2 separate regions of the Homo sapiens genome follow, and region 1 is linked to region 2. The links come from fine-mapping of genetic effects on plasma protein levels. A gene starts in region 2. The other region holds a variant in brackets. All regions are shown on one strand. Distances are from middle to middle. Region 1 overlaps FGL1 (fibrinogen like 1). Region 2 holds the start of FGL1 (fibrinogen like 1).

The links. PIP is the posterior inclusion probability: the model's chance that the variant is causal. The UK Biobank Pharma Proteomics Project read protein levels with antibody pairs (Olink). The fine-mapping took linkage between variants from a reference panel, not from the people measured, so its PIPs are less certain.
Region 1: its variant is fine-mapped to the plasma level of the FGL1 protein (UK Biobank, PIP above 0.99).

What each region holds. Positions count from the first base shown.
Region 1 is chr8:17,861,170-17,869,515 of GRCh38, reverse strand. It overlaps FGL1 (fibrinogen like 1), which reads left to right. Exons shown (of 8, transcript NM_004467.4): 6 at 512-600; 7 at 781-968; 8 at 4,765-5,127. The coding sequence ends at 4,924. Among named protein-coding and RNA genes, the nearest start is that of FGL1, 30 kb to the left of the region's middle. The variant C/G (reference allele first, on the strand shown) is at 3,930.
Region 2 is chr8:17,892,174-17,900,519 of GRCh38, reverse strand. FGL1 (fibrinogen like 1) reads left to right here and starts at 4,996. Exons shown (of 8, transcript NM_004467.4): 1 at 4,996-5,073.

The DNA of each region.
Region 1 (8,346 bases), 31 kb after region 2:
CTTTTATGCTATCAGGAAAATAACCAAGTTCAGGCATATGCAGGCAATGGCAACTACATTTTACAAACCTAGTGGCTCAGCTACTAGAGATTACACAATGTCATTAATAGCCACCATTTATATTCAAGATCAACATTCTTACTGAAATCAAGAAAAAGAGGTCAAACTATTAAAGGTAAAACGTCGACCCTTTCATTGTTAGATTGCTTTAAGTAATCACTTATTTTTTCTGTTGTTCATTATTCAGTGAATTGCACTAGGTTTTACCTCTAAGAGATCTAGTAGACATTTTTTAAATTTAATATTGTATCCATCATTTTTTTTCAAATAAATTACACGATAAAATGTTCATGTTATATATACAAAGGAGTCACTGTTTAATCTTTGAAAACTGATTCTTGGCCAAGGGAAATGGTAAAATTAAAATAGAGCTGTGAATTATTTTTAAACCGCAGTAGTCCGTGTCATGTCACACATTTTTAAAAATTATAATTGCTTGTTTCTTTTTTAGAAGACTACACTTTAAAAATCGACCTTGCAGATTTTGAAAAAAATAGCCGTTATGCACAATATAAGAATTTCAAAGTTGGAGATGAAAAGGTACTACAATTTTCTAAGAAGTAAAACCGTGAATAAATGCTTAAAATGTGCAATATAACCCTGGAGTCAGTGGAAATAAAAATATACAATAGAACCTGTTCTTTTGTTTATGAAATAAACTTAATTTTAAAATGGTCATAGAGGAACTCCACTGACAGCAGAAATGCCCTTTTTCTTTAGAATTTCTACGAGTTGAATATTGGGGAATATTCTGGAACAGCTGGAGATTCCCTTGCGGGGAATTTTCATCCTGAGGTGCAGTGGTGGGCTAGTCACCAAAGAATGAAATTCAGCACGTGGGACAGAGATCATGACAACTATGAAGGGAACTGCGCAGAAGAAGATCAGTCTGGCTGGTGGTTTAACAGGTTTGATGTCTTATGAGCATAGTTGTAATGGAGTTGATGATATCTCACTGATAGACATTAATTATCAATATAATATGTATGGTAATGTTAGTCTTTATTTATAATATTAGTATTATTAAGTAATCATTCTCATTAGAATTCTTCAGCAATGAAGTCGTTTTGAGGATTTGTTCATTGTGTACATTAGTAAAGTGTAAATGTCATAGAAATAAATTATTACTTTTACAAAGATCATTTGCAAACTGAATTATGGATGAGTTATAAATAGAAGGCCACAAATTCACACAAAGAAAGAGAGAGCATGTATATATATGGAGACTATTTGGCATCCTAATAACCAACTAGTTCTTCACCTGACCATATCACACAAAAGAGCCACCGTTATTGCTGTAATGCTTCTGTATAGTACTACTTTTCAATCACTATGGCTTTCATTAATTCATTGAGTCTAAGCCTCTCCCAATACAGAAATTTCCTTTACAATAATCCAGAAACCTAATTCTACCCTCTGACTGAATACATTCATGTTACTTTATCAGCAAATTCATTCCGTTTTTGATTGTATATAGTTGCTTCTTTTTTTACTGATACAAAATATTTTATATATTTCTGGGGTACATGGGCTAATTTTTGCATTTTTGGTAGAGATGGGGTTTTGCCATGTTGCCCAGGCAGGTCTCGAACTCCTGGCCTCATGTGATCCACCTACCCCGGCCTCCCAAAGTGTTGGGCGTGAGCCACCGCACCCTGCCGAATTCATAAGTTTTAAATTGCATGTCATTCTGAGCAGAGATTCGCACCATTGGATTCTTTCTGCCCAGGAGGTGGGTCACCCCTCTGTCTAGCGTATCCACGCTGAAAGCCCTCCCTGCCCCAAGACACTTAGTAGAAGTCTGAGTTATCAGATCCAGTGTTGGAGTTTCATAGTGCTCGTGTTCGAATCATGCTTATTTGATTTAATAATGGTCCCAAAGCACAAGAGCTGTAATGCTGACATATTGTTATATAATCATAATCTTTTATTATTAGTTGTTGTTAATCTCTTACTGTGTCTAATTTATAAATTAACTTTGTCATAGGTATGTATATTATAGGAAAAAACAGAGAACTACTATAGATGGTTTTTTTCCTTCCTACACCCAAAAGATTTTTCCCCCTAGCGTTCTGAAATTTTACAGTGACATACACTGTCGTGGTCTTCTTTTGGTTTACTGCAGTGGGTACTCAGTGGTTCTTTTGAATCTATATCATGTCTTTCAGTTTGGTAAATTTTATTTTCTTTATCTGCTCGTTACTCACTTCGTAGCTGTTTCGGTTATCAGACTGAAAAAGCATAGTATCAATATATAGAATTTGGTATTATCTGTAGTTTCAGGCATCCACTAGGGGTCTTAGAACGTATCCCCTGCAGATAAGGGAGTACTACTGCTGTTGTAAAAATAGTCATCTTTTCTATATTTTGCTTTTTTAAAAAAACATTTGAGTCCATTTAAGATTTGATCATTTATAAAGGAACTGGAGTATTTCCAGCAGTGTGAAGGAGAGAAACAAATTTCACTCTCCTGCTTTGCAAATTGAAGGTGATGATGGTGTTTTCCTTAGTGGTTTTCCTGTTATTTTAAAAACCGTCTTCTTCACCTGTTCCTACTCCTTTCTTTCCCCCTTGTTCTTCTAAGTCAGCATGACATAAAACTTAACGTGTAATTCATGAAGTCATCTGCAAGCATCACCAATGTTTGATTTTGAAAACAATTCCATATACAGAAATAATTACTAATAGTATCCTGAGATCAAAACCATGTACTTTATCCAGCTGACTGGCTTCTAAGGCATCTGAATGAAAACTACCATGTATATTAATGTGGGCAAAGGAACGATTTACCTGACTTTAAAGAAATGGGTTCAGGGAGCACAAAGAAAGGCCATTCATTAGGTGGAGCCTGCCACAGAGCCCACATTATCCTTGGAATCAAAGGGGTTGATAAGGCTGTGCAATTGGAAAATCAGTAGGCATTAAGGGAGAGAAAGTAGATTGTTTTAGAAACTTGGTGCTACTTCTACCATGCCTACTATCAGTGAGTTCGACTATCATCTTTTCTTCCTTCTTACTGTTGCTTTTTTTCTGTCCCATAGTTCTTCTAATTTACATGAAATGTTGGCACTTCATAAATATTACCCACCTATAAAATGTTTTTTTCCACATAGCAAACCAATCACTGCGAGTTGATGTCTTTTCTTTGTTAGTGTAGCATTTCACGTGAGTGTTCACAGCCACTTCTTCACCAAGGAAGACCCAATCATCCCCTAACCTAGTTTCAAATCCAGGCTGTTCTAAAAACTAAACGATGCTAGAAAACTGGTCTCAGAATAGTGAAGGTTTCTTATGTTCATCACAGAGTCAGTTTCCTAATGGGATTCAAATGATAGACCAAATATAAAAATATAGTTAGCAGATGTCTCTAGATAGACAAATATATGCCAAAATATATATTCTGGAGACTCAATTTACAGTATTTTCTTTTTTTAACATTACTTTCCATGCTGTTTTAAAAACACAGTAGGCTTTGACATTTGCAGACTTGACATACATATTTTCAATTAATTACGTCCATTTAAGTTAGGAGGACTTCGAGAACGCTCAGTAGGAGTGAATCATTAAGCTGATAAGTGATTCAAGCCAGCCACTCAGCCTTTACGGGTAGATTATATGCTTTTTTGATTCAATAATTTGGGTTTTTCCATAGATGTTCAGAACTACCTCTTGTGAATGTTCTCCTTCTATCCTAATTCTGACATCTTTTCATTAATTTTATCAATAAAGAAGTATATGGCAATTAATTTCATAACAACACACATAAACTTATTGCATACTGTTACATGTAAATTATACATATCAAGGACAAAATTTACAGACTCCAAAGGAGGAAAGAAACATTTTTATATTGTCGATAACCTAACCAG[C/G]TTATCTAGATTGGTGCAATATATGTAAAAAATTAACTCAGCAACTAGGAAAAAATGATTATTGGTTGATGGGTGGCAAAACTTTAAATGGTGATTTAGGTTTGTTTGCTTACCCTTGAGATTGAAATAACTGATAGGCTAGCAATTTAAAGAAGGGGACATACGGAGTTTGAATTATGAAAGCTAAGTCTTAGCAGCAGAGGAATGAACGTGTGAGTGCAAATTATCCAGGAAAGCCAGTAGTAGAGCACCTTGCCCACGACTTGCTTTGCTGACACTCACCTTAGCTCTTGTTAAGTATGAAATTAACACTGTTCTGAGTCAGGAGGTTGTAAGGCTGGAGGTTACAAGGATGCGTTTTTGTTTGCTTGTTTTAATTTTTTGTTTAAAGAAAATCAAAAATTGAAATGCTTATTTTTCAATGCACTGTGAGTGGCCTGGGTTGTATTTTCAGATTTGTAATGGCAGTAAAACTCACCATTTTAAAATACCCATCTCTGAGGCCAGGCGCAGTGGCTCACACCTGTTATCCCAGCAGTTTGGAAGGCTGAGGCAGGAGGATTGCTTGAGCTCAGGAGTTGGAGACCAGCCAGGGCAACACAGTGAGACACTGTCTCTATTATTAAAAAAAAATTAAAAAATAAAAAATAAAATACAATAGCCATCTGTTGTAGAAATTTCTCAGCTTTTGGAAACTAGTAAATATTTACTTGTCTGAAAAATGGCAGAATTCATAGTTCAAAAATTTTGAGCATTTGTAGCAAAATAAAAGGGATTCTGAACAATATTTTTCCAGTCTGATTGTTGTTTTCTTTTTTTTTCTCCCTTCCACTAGGTGTCACTCTGCAAACCTGAATGGTGTATACTACAGCGGCCCCTACACGGCTAAAACAGACAATGGGATTGTCTGGTACACCTGGCATGGGTGGTGGTATTCTCTGAAATCTGTGGTTATGAAAATTAGGCCAAATGATTTTATTCCAAATGTAATTTAATTGCTGCTGTTGGGCTTTCGTTTCTGCAATTCAGCTTTGTTTAAAGTGATTTGAAAAATACTCATTCTGAACATATCCATGCGCAATCATGATAACTGTTGTGAGTAGTGCTTTTCATTCTTCTCACTTGCCTTTGTTACTTAATGTGCTTTCAGTACAGCAGATATGCAATATTCACCAAATAAATGTAGACTGTGTTAATATTTATTGAATCCCTGTGTGCAAAGGGCTCTGATAAGAGCTTATGTCAGACAAAACATAAAAAGCATGGATTATATACCATGACTTAGGAGATACAAGCATAAATGCATAATAAATTATGAATGCAATTGGCAAAACACATGACAAAATCCAGCAAATAATGGATTGCCGAATCAACCGCAGAGACAATAAATATTATGAGTTGGGATTTGAACTCAGGTTTTGGATTACAGAGTGGAAACTTTTAAGCACAACCCAGGATCTTAATCACTACAAAACGCTACTCGTATTTTTAGGAAGTTTATGTAGGTTATACACTTCTCTCACAGGGCTCATTTTAATTCTTATGCCAATCCTGTGAGGTTATTATTATGTCCATTTAACAGAGCTGAGAATCAGTGGGTCTGAGTTTTTGTGACTGCTCCAAGTTACAAAGTAGGGGAACAAGGCCTCAAATCCAAGTCTTCTGATGCTAAATCAAATATCTTGCCACCATCCTATAGCTTCTTCTGGGTAGAACTTGGATTGGTGCAGAATAGGGAGAGAACGTTTCAAATGAGAGTAAAAGATACTCCAAAAGGCTGGGCACGGTGGCTCACGCCTGTAATCCCAGCACTCTGGGAGGCTGAGGCAGGTGGACCACTTGAGGCCAGGAGTCTGAGACCAGCCTGGCCAACATGATGAAAACCCATCTCTACTAAAAATACAAAAATTAGCTGGGCGTGGTGGTGTGAGCCTGTAATCCCAGCTACTCGGGAGGCTGAGGCAGGAGAATTGCTTAAACCCAGGAAGCAGAGGTTGTAGTGAGCTGAGATCGTGCCAACCTGCACTCCGACCTGGCCAACAAAGCGAGAAGCCATCTCAAGAAAAAAAAAAAAAAAGATACTCTAAAAAATATTTGTGTGTCAACTGTGTGTCAGGCACAGAGGATACAGTTAAAGCCCACACGGAGCTTAGTTTTTTGGTAAACACATACACTAATCATAGAATCACAAAATATACATAATTATAAAAGCTGATATGTATGAAGTAAAGATATGTGCCTGGGGAATGTTTACCAGGAGGATCTGACCTGGCTTTGGGGTAGGAGATCAGAAAAGCTTCCCAGAACAACTGACTTTTTGAGCTGAGACCTTTTAAGAAGGTGTACGTGGGGAGATATTGCAGGCAGAGGGAATCATGTGTGTTAAGTACACAGAGCAGGAAAGTGCTTGGGAACAAAAGCTTAGAAAGCCAATATAGTTGAGTGATCCTTAAATCCTTAAGCCAAGGATTCTGCCACTTAATGGCTATGTGACGTTGGGTAGGCAACTTAACTTCTCTGAGCCCTAGCTATCTCATCTACAAGGTAACGATTACAATAGTACCTGCCTCATAGGGGTGCTTTGAGAATTATAAAACTATAGCACTTGGCATAGTGCCTCGCACAAAGTAAGCATTCAATAAGAACTAGGTGTGTTGACTTGTGAAGTAGGCATTAAGGGACAGTAATGATATAGAGGCCCTTGAAATCATAGGCCACATAAGGATATTAAGGTTAGTTGTACTTTATTCTCTAAATCAGTGTTTCCCAAGCGGCACTTCTCAGTCTTTAGTGTCATACAAACCAACTGAAGATCCTGTTAAAATGTAACTCTGCTTCCAGGATGGGGCCTAATATTTGGGTTTTCTAAGAAGTTTCCAGACAATGCAGATACTGCTGGTCTAGAAATTACACTTTGAAAAGCAAAAAGCTAGAGAGCCATAGTTCTGTGAGACATTGGTAGTTCAGTACAGAAAGAAGAAAAGGGCTGCCTGATCAAATAAATTTAGGAGATGACAAATTCAGCAGAATTCCACAGGTTTCTTCTCTTGGGAATTTCTCAGTTCTCTAATTTTTCTAATGTGCGTTCTGAAGCTCCAAGAAGGACATATAGTATGTAGCATTTTTATATCTAATTAAGAGTATGTTCTGGTGCGAGGTATAAATTGCCTGACTACGGAAGTCCAAACAAATAAAGATTTCTTCATCTTACGTAGTGAGAACTCAGGAGGTAAGTGGTTGCTGACCTATGTTCAGTGCAGCGTGGAGGCTGATGACCCTGCAATTCATTTAGCCCATCCTTCAAAATTGCAAATTATCTACCACGGTTCCTGCTTTGAGTTCGTGTTGAAAGCAGTAAGAAAAGCGAAGGGTCAACAGACTTCAGTTATGCCTTGTTGGTCAGAATTGTATCATATGTTCACTCTGTCTGGAAGTATGATCAGGAGAAAGAATATTTATTTTTATGATCTCTGTAGAATGTGCAGGCAAAGGAGAAATGTTTGCCAGGGTTCTTGATTGTTTTTCAATGTGGTCTTGTGGGAACAGTGTTCCATAAAACACACGTTGGTAAGCTATAAATAATGGATCATCAGTGACAATTTTAAATATGGGCTTAATTGCTCAAGTAGTAGCCTGAAGAACTCACACAATTAGGAGATCAAAAGAAGAAAAGCTTTTAAAGGAGAAAAAAAATGATTCCACAGAGAAGTGGGAGGGGAGCTAAACAAATTATGGCGTCAAACCTCAGTATGATAGTTTTTCAATGCAGAAGGAGTGATTTTAAAAATTTAAAATGCCATAAAATAATGGAAGAGAAGTTCTAATGAAATATCTTCGGACTTAGTGATAATGCTATTTGTGTTATTAAATCCGTTTCAGTGGAATGGTAGGGAGCTCTAGGCCAGGAAATAAAAGCAGTTAGAGAGAATAGATTGGGGCCTGGAGCAGTGGCTCACGCTTGTAATCCCAACACTTTGGGAAGCCTAGGTGGGTGGATCACTTGAGGTCAGGAGTTTGAGACCAGCCTGGTCAACATGGTGAAACCCAATCTCTACTAAAAATACAAAAATTAGCTGGGCATCATGATGCATACCTGTAGTCCCAGCTACTCGGGAGGCTGAGGCAGAAGAATCGCTTGAACTGGGGAGGTGGAGGTTGCAGGGAGCCGAGACTGTGCCACTACACTCCAGCCTGGGCGACAGAGTGAGAGACTCATCCAAAAAATAAAAAAGAGAGAGAATAGAGATTGGTCATTTGAGGAGTTTGGATGTAAAATAGGGAAACTGGACTGATTTTTTCTGAATTAGGAAGACCCCAGCCTAAAATAAATGTCTCTGAAATTTCACCATTAGTGAGCTATTTATTAGACTTTATCACTTTTTGAAATGCAAAATGCTTTTAATTTGTATCAGCTGAT
Region 2 (8,346 bases):
AAATAGGGCCTCAATATTTCAGAATCTTTGATCGCTGGAGTCAAGCACACAATGTCTATTCTAAAAGTTCTAGAATTTTTCCACAATGTGTCTCTGAGGGGGAAGCAGGAAAAAAACATTTCAGTCTCAGAGGAATCATTTTGTAGTATACTCTTGGTCATGCCTATAGGAGTCAGGGACCTAGCCTTTGTTTTTGAGGGAGTTCTAGTTATTGGCAAAGTTATCCAAGTGCAAATATAAATTTTTAAATGTAAATTTTAAAGGTTTCATATGCCCGGTTATTGTCCCAAATGCACATGCAGAAAAATAAGTTGTGCCTGATGAACTAAATGTGGGCTAACCAACAGATTAATCAGAAAGTATGTGTAATTGTAGACAATGAATTTTTTTGTCTCTCAACCTAATGTACAGTTATTTTGAAGTGAAAGGAAACTATATCTCAGGGAATTATATTTAGATTGTCTTCCTTTTTCTAAGAAATAAAAACTGAGTAAAAAAAAGACAAAATTTAAATTCAAATGGGCAAATATATTTTTGTCAAATGTATATTTTTACATTTTCTGCTAGAGTTCAGAAATTTTGTCAGAATAGCTTGCAACCCTGAGGATTCTACTTTCAGATATTGTCATAGTGGTAGGAATCACGCATTTTCCAATTAGTTGAATTCTTCATGAAAAGATAATATTTTAAAAGTCTAAAAACTGGAGAAAAGAGGTACATATAGAGACTGGATTTAGGCATCAGGATGAAAAGATACACTGCAAATTCATCCAAAAAAAAAAAAAAAAAAGCAGATACATCATCACCGAGGAGTAGAATGAAAGCAAGTATCTTCTGATACCTTCCATCTTCCGTGTTCCTAAAGGCGTATTTTAAAATGTGGTTTTACTTAACACGAGCTCTTGTGTTCTTTTTTCCCTACATATTTTTATACAATATAGCTAAATTTCTTCTTCATGTGTTACGGGTAAAAAATCTGTTTTCTATTAGAATTTACGTGTATTTGGTTAAAATTGTTTTTTTAATGACATGTGACCTTCTGGGGAGATTCTTCTTTAATAAGAAAGATGTTATTATTCAGAAGCATAAAATAAATGCCAGTCCACAGTCCTTGCAAACACACAGAAAGAAAAACAAACATATTCCTCAGCAAGAACACTTTTTATTTTTTGTGGCAGAAAAAAAAAAAGAAAACATCTTTGTACTCTTCCTGCTAGGGAACCAATCTAAAATTAGTTTGAGAATCAGAGGGGAAAAAAATCCAAACACATAGGTGAGAAAGCTCTGAAAAGATGAGTAGTGAATAAGCGTTTCATTTTATCTTAACTAGTATGCAGGGGAGGACATAGGTTGTGTGGAACCTGAAGCTACACATTTGGGAGTATCTGCCAAATGTCTATCAGTATTACTTTTTACATGCCTCATGTAGCAGGCCTAGAGGGAGAGCAATCCAGATGTGAGCAAAAGAACAGAGAGCTCTGGGAGGAAGAAATAATGGTGCAGTGACAAAATTCCTTCTGAGGCATTCGACTTTCCTGTCCAGGAGCCTCAGAGTTACAGGCAGAGTTCAATCATAGAAGCAGAGCTTCTAGGATATATAAGGGATTTGACTTAATGCAACTGTGGGAGCTGGTTAAGTACTCTTTGAAAGGCAGCTGTCTCCAGGGATGATGTTGGAGCTTGAAGTACGAACTGCAGTTAAGCGAGAGAGTAGATGAGCGTAATAGAAGCAGGAGCTGGAATCTATGAGGACGGACTGAAACCTGTGTCAGTTCTTGTTGCCTCTGACCTTGGTTGATGTGGGTGTCCTACAGAAGCCAGACCCATTTGTAATGTGCTAAACGAGGCTCCAAATTATATCCAAAGGGAAGTGAAACAGCTGGAGGCTTAGCCACTATCTTAAGGCCAACGAGATACGTTACAGCATGGGAGAGCTGCAAAGATGGCTGCCACTTCCTTTCTGCCTGCCAACTGCTCCTAATGGAAAACATAAGGCAAAAGGAATTCTGGGAACTGTAGTTCGGCCTACCCAAGTTGACACATTACAAAGCACCTCAATTTTTCTTTTCTTCCTCTTTTTCTTTATCCACCTTTACCCTTATTTTTCTAGTTCATATTGTCAGAATCTTTCCCAGAAAGTGTGTGTGAAGGTGGAACTATTTATTGATCATCTATTAATGTAAACTTTCTGCTAGTTACATCAATAATGGGAATACTTAGGATAACTCACTAGTAAAACTGTTTTAGTTTTATTAATTTTAAAATGCTTCTCCATTGAAATTTCTGAGACCTACGTTATGTGCAAATAAACTTTCTAGTTTTTCAGGACTCTGCCTGAGATGACATTGAAACCAGCATTTCAGGAAGGAATTTGATTACCTCCACCTGAGGAAGCTCTGCTAGTTGTGTGGAACGAAGACTGTTCTTAACAACCCCTTTCCTTGATATCTACAATACGCTCCGTTCTAAATATTTTAATAAAGGGCACATTTGAAGTTTAAAATGTTATCATTGTAATCAGAGCATGGAGTTTTATAAGTCCCATAAAAGGGTGCCTCCTGAACTGGGAGTCAAGTTTGGAAAATATAACCATCAGAAATTTATGCTGGTAGAATACAGTCAAGGATATAAGATCATTTGTCTGAGTCTAGTTCCTCATGCAGCCTTAAGTAGACATGTTCCTCGCTGCAAGCTTGAGTGGACTGGAGGCGGCAAGATCTGGAATTAAACCTTCCCACGGTGACTGGGTCAAGTATCAAATAATGGACAGGTGTTCAATCTGGCAGGCACAATACAGGGTCCAGAGGGTTTGGATGAAAATTGTGCTGTAACTGATGTATTAATTGAAGAGTTCTCTGAAAAAGGTCTTCCAAAAGGAAAAGGAAAAAAGAATTGACAGTGTCCGTTTAATGTGTTTGAGAGCCTAATCAGCCTGATCTTGGTGGGACTGTACTTGTTGTCCTATTATATCATGCTTTTCTTGTACTTTTTTCAGCCAGTGATCTCAGGTCTCATTCTCATTTCATAGCTTTGGTGCAGTTGTGCAAGGTCACAACTCTTCTTTCTTGCTTTTTTTCTTTTTCTTTTTTTTTGACAGGGTCTTGCTCTGTCACCCAGGCTGCAGTGCAGTGGCGCGATCTCGGCTCACTGCAATCTCTGCCTCCTGGGTTCAAGTAATTCTCCTCCTCAGCCTCCTGTGTAGCTGGTACCACAGACGCCCACCACCACACCTGGATAATTTTTGTAGTTTTAGTAGAAACTAAAAATACATGGGGTTTTGCCATTTTGGCCAGGCTGGTCTCGAACTCCTGACCTCAGGTGATCCACCTGCCTCAGCCTCCCAAAGCGTTGGGATTACAGGCGTGAGCCACCGCACCTGGCCATAATTTTGACCTTTCCTGATGATAGTTCTTCCACCATGTTATGGCAGTACATCCATGGAATAATGTTACTCCAAGAAAATTTGGCTTTTGGAATTCCTCCACAAAGTATTGGCCCTAGAGTAGTCCTTACTGCCTGATTAACTTTTGCAAGTTTCTCCTGAGGTAATGATGCTAGCCAAGTTTCCGAAAGACAGCATAGTCTACCTTTAGTAGAAAAGAGGACAGATTCTGAGCAGGATTGCCTTTGAGCCCAGCTATACCTCTTGTTAGCTGTGTGACCTCGTGCAAGTCACTTAAACCTCTGTGTCTCAGTTTCGTCATTTGTGAAATGGAGATCATTAACAGTACCTACTTATAGGGCTGTGTGGCTGAGTGAGTTGATAAAATTACCATGTTTAGCACATGATAAGTATACCACATGTTAGCTGCTGTTAATGTTATGTCCCTCCAGTGAGGAAATGAACACAAGGCTAAATTATTGCTTGAATGGGGACAAAGCTAAAGGCATACAAGAAGGAAAGATAAGTTTGTATTTCAAAATATGTCATTTTACCACAGAGATCATTATTGAATTAGCCGAATAATCCCATATTTTTGCTTTTGAAATTTAACATTAGCAGCTTGAATTCTCTACAATTATGAATGTATAATTTCCACTTCTTCTGTGTGTGTGCAAATCACTTCAGTCTAACTGGCTTTTTTTTTCCTTCTTTTTTCCAGTAAATCAACAGGATTACCTTTCCCTTAATAATCTTCAAAATGTCCACGTGAAGGACAGGAAGATGTTTAATGGGAAGACCAAACATCGTCAGTGCTCAAGTCCAGTAGATAACAAAGAACAGAAAGAAAACAAAACTTTGGTATTTTACTGGAATCTGAGTGAATAAATAGGGACCACAGGACAAATGGCAAACAACTGCTTGAGTTACATCAGAAGGAAAGAAGAAATGATGAACCCAGATTTCCAGTAAGAAACTGTTACACAATACGATTAATGGAGCTAACAAGTGCCTATTACACATTAGAAAATCTTCTAGAGGATTTTAAAACAAAAGGAACAACTTGTCCAGAGTATAATCGATGCTTCCAGTTAAATTTCACAATTTTGCACCTCAGGGAATACTTTTGTTTTTCTTAGAGAGCAAATAAACTGACCATTTCACCTTGGCAATTATTAACCTGCCTTGTTTTTTATAACTAGGAAAAATTTGGCTTATCTCCATATTTTAGTTGAGATGACATATTAATTCATATTTTTGTGGGTAAAATGTTATTACCCTTAATACAAAGCAAAGTTTCAGCTGGACTTCGTTTTTACTTAATCTTCAATGGAACATTATTGAAGTTACAGTACAAAAATTCTCTGAATGAACATAATAATAAGTTGTAAAATATATATATCTTTATAAAGATATATTATTGGATCTTTCACAAAAAGTCATACAAGTGGGGAAAAAAGAAAAATATCAGAGTATTGGGATTTGTCCTTGAATCTTCTCTTTTAGCTTTCTTTCAGTTAAACCTGTGTCCACATGTTTGTTTCTGGATTGAAGCCAGAATCAACATTGTCCCTATTTCTAATCAAATAATGGAGAAATAATTACAAATTCCCAATGCAGTTACAGGATCCTGGGAAGCAGAGTGTCTGGATGGAACCTGAGCTGGGTCTCTGACTCACTTCTGACTTTAGGCAAGTTATTTAATGTCTCTGCATTTTTGACATGCTTGTAATAATGCTAATTTATTTCACAGGTATGATAGTAACCAAAACTCAGGTAACAACCATTAGCTTTTGCAAGAAGTCAGGTTGACTAGCAAGGAGTCTGCTTCTGCTACTTGGAGAAGAGATTTAGAATTATGTATCTTTTGTTACAGATATACAGATATACAAATATACAGATATACAAATAAGGTATGTTAGAATTACAAATGAGGAAAATGGAAAATTTTAGAGAACTTAAGATATTCTCAGGAATTATTCTAAAGCTAATCAAAGTAATATAATGACTTTCTAAATATGTATAATTACATTTTGAAATGCTTTATTGTTTATATGCTACCAGACTAGGGGGTGCCTTTTTGATTATTGGATTATCTTAATGGTAATGAGATGAACATTTCAGGACATCAAGAGACAGAGGCCTGTCAAAAAAATTTCATTAGCCCTTTATTTTTTACTAAATCTAATGCTAAGCAATATTTATATACCTTATATAATGTATATATAATCTATAATATATACATAATTATGTATAATAATGTTACGTACATACATATACATATATATACAGTGTGCGCAGGTAAAATTATATGATATATAGGTGCATCACCCAGAGCATTTTCAAAACATACTTCCATTTATGCAAGAGCCAGAATCAAACATTGGAATAAGAAAATTTCTTTTTTAAGCTCTAGGCGTTTTTTGTTGTTGTCGTTTGTTTGTTGGTTTTTTGAGATGGAGTCTCACTTTGTATAATTTCCTTTACATTTTGAATGAATTGCATGGGAGTTTGACGTAAATGATAGGTTTACAGTTTCAGTATAAAAAATTAAAAATAAAATGGACTATATGACAATTTTCACTTCAGAAGTCAAAAAACTTCAGAAACATTTTTCTTTATTGCATTTCTTGAGGGATCAACTATATTTAGCTTTGTAAGGCTTTCAGTGAGTATGGATTCTTAAGAAAAATACAAAAGCACAGTTATATTCCATTTTCAGAAAGAGGAAAAAATTTGGAAGGAAATAGCTTAAAAGGAGTCTCTAAGCTTGTGTTTATGGGTACATTTTTAACTCACTGACTTAGGTTATAGTCCTAAGCATTATAGTCCTATAGCGTTTGTGAATGCTAACTTATTAAACATACTTCGTTCAATAACTTTTTCCTTCCTTTTTATTTCTTTTATATATCCTTTTACAATGCTTGCTTAAAACATACCAGTTTTGAAATGTTTGCATGCTACTAATGTACTTCTGTTTTGTAATTGTTTTTAAAAATTATATATTATTTTTAGAACTTTTCATTTACAAATTTAATGTCTTCATCTTTAAATTTAATGCAGCGTAATTAATTAAATTTTTTTTAAATATAGTGGGGAAGGAATTAGAATTTATAGCATTAAAATTATGTAAAATAATATAGTCCACCAAAGAACAGCCATTTGATAACAATTTTAATTTTATAATAATTAAAAGTTTTGATACTGCCTAAGGCAAAAATATTATAAAAGAAATACAACTAATTGTGCAATAAATGAACAGAATAATTTGATACAACTTTACTGTAAGCCAGATGTGCAGAAGAAATAATGGTTTACTATAATGAATGATGGAGACCAGAATTTCAAAGCAAGTTTCTTAATGCTTAGCATTTCTTCAATATTACAGAGAATGTTGGTTAGAATTGCAAAGGAGGAAAATGGAAAATTTTAGAGAACTTAAGATATTCTCAGGAATTATTCTAAAGCTAATCAAAGTAATATAATGACTTTCTAAATGTAAATAATTACATTTTGAAATGCTTTATTGTTTATATGCTACCAGACTAGGGGGTGCCTTTTTGATTATTGGATTATCTTAATGGTAGTGAGATAAACATTTCAGGACATCAAGAGACAGAGGCCTGTCAAAAAAATTTCATTAGCCCTTTATTTTTTACTAAATCTAATGCTAAGCAATATTTATATACCTTATATAATGTATATATAATATAATCTATAATATATACATATTATGTATAATAATGTTATGTTCATACATATACGTATATATACAGTGTGCGTAGGTAAAATTATATGATATATAGGTGCATCATTCAGAGCATTTTCAAAACATACTTCCATTTATGCAAGAGCCAGAATCAAACATTGGAATGAGAAAATTTCTTTTTTAAGCTCTAGGTGTTTTTTGTTGTTGTTGTTTGTTTGTTTGTTTTTTGAGATGGAGTCTCACTCTGTCACCCAGGCTGGAGTGCAGTGGTGTGATCTTGGCTCACTGCAACCTCTGTCTCCCAGGTTCAAGCAATTCTCATGCCTCAACCAACACAGTAGCTGGGATAAAAGGTGTGTGCCACCACACCTGGCTAATTTCTTTGTATTTTTAGTAGGGACGGGGTTTTGCCATGTTGGCCATGCTGGTCTCAAACTCCTGACCCAAGTGATCTGCCTGCCTCAGCCTCTCAACGTGCTGGGATTACAGGCATGAGCCACCACGCCTGGCTAAGCTCTAACTTTTTAAGCTAATTTATTCACTTCTGAAATAAAGTACTTGATCCCACAAATGCATAAGAAAACTTTAATCAAATAAAAAAATTTTTCAACAAATAACATTAAAGCAAAGTCTAGAAGATACAGACATTTCATGATTTTTAATTTTTGACTCCTGAATATTATCTGGGAGCGGATTAAAATAATGAAAATTTGTTTCCTGTCACATAAAAAAAGAGGACATTATTTTTACTACTAATCCTTAGCAGTTTCATTTATCAAGGAAAAATCCTAATCAGTAATCTATTAAATACATTGGTTATTTTCAGTCAGAAGAACAATTTGAGTTGGAGTCACAAATAAATGGTATTTATGTCATGTCGTTATGCTGATTTCCCAGACTAGTGTAAATATACTTAGTGAAAGTCTCTTTTATTTCTTTAGGCAAACAATTTTCCCTCTCTGAGCCTCTAGTGTTGATGATATTTGACTGAATGATGTCACTTCCTCTAATTATATTTTCTCTGCATGTTCTAGTCTCGGGGAACAAGGCTATTTCTAAAATCTCTTTATATTTTTTAAATATTTTGTTTTCCATCTTTATTTTCTTTTGCTTCCTTATAATAAAATGTTTTTGTTTCTTATTTTCTGTAACATGAAAAATACTTTATGACTGTATGTCTGTGACTATGCAATTGTTTATGTTTAAGAAATTGCCATTTGCATAAGGGCATTTATTTTTTTCCTTTATGCTACTT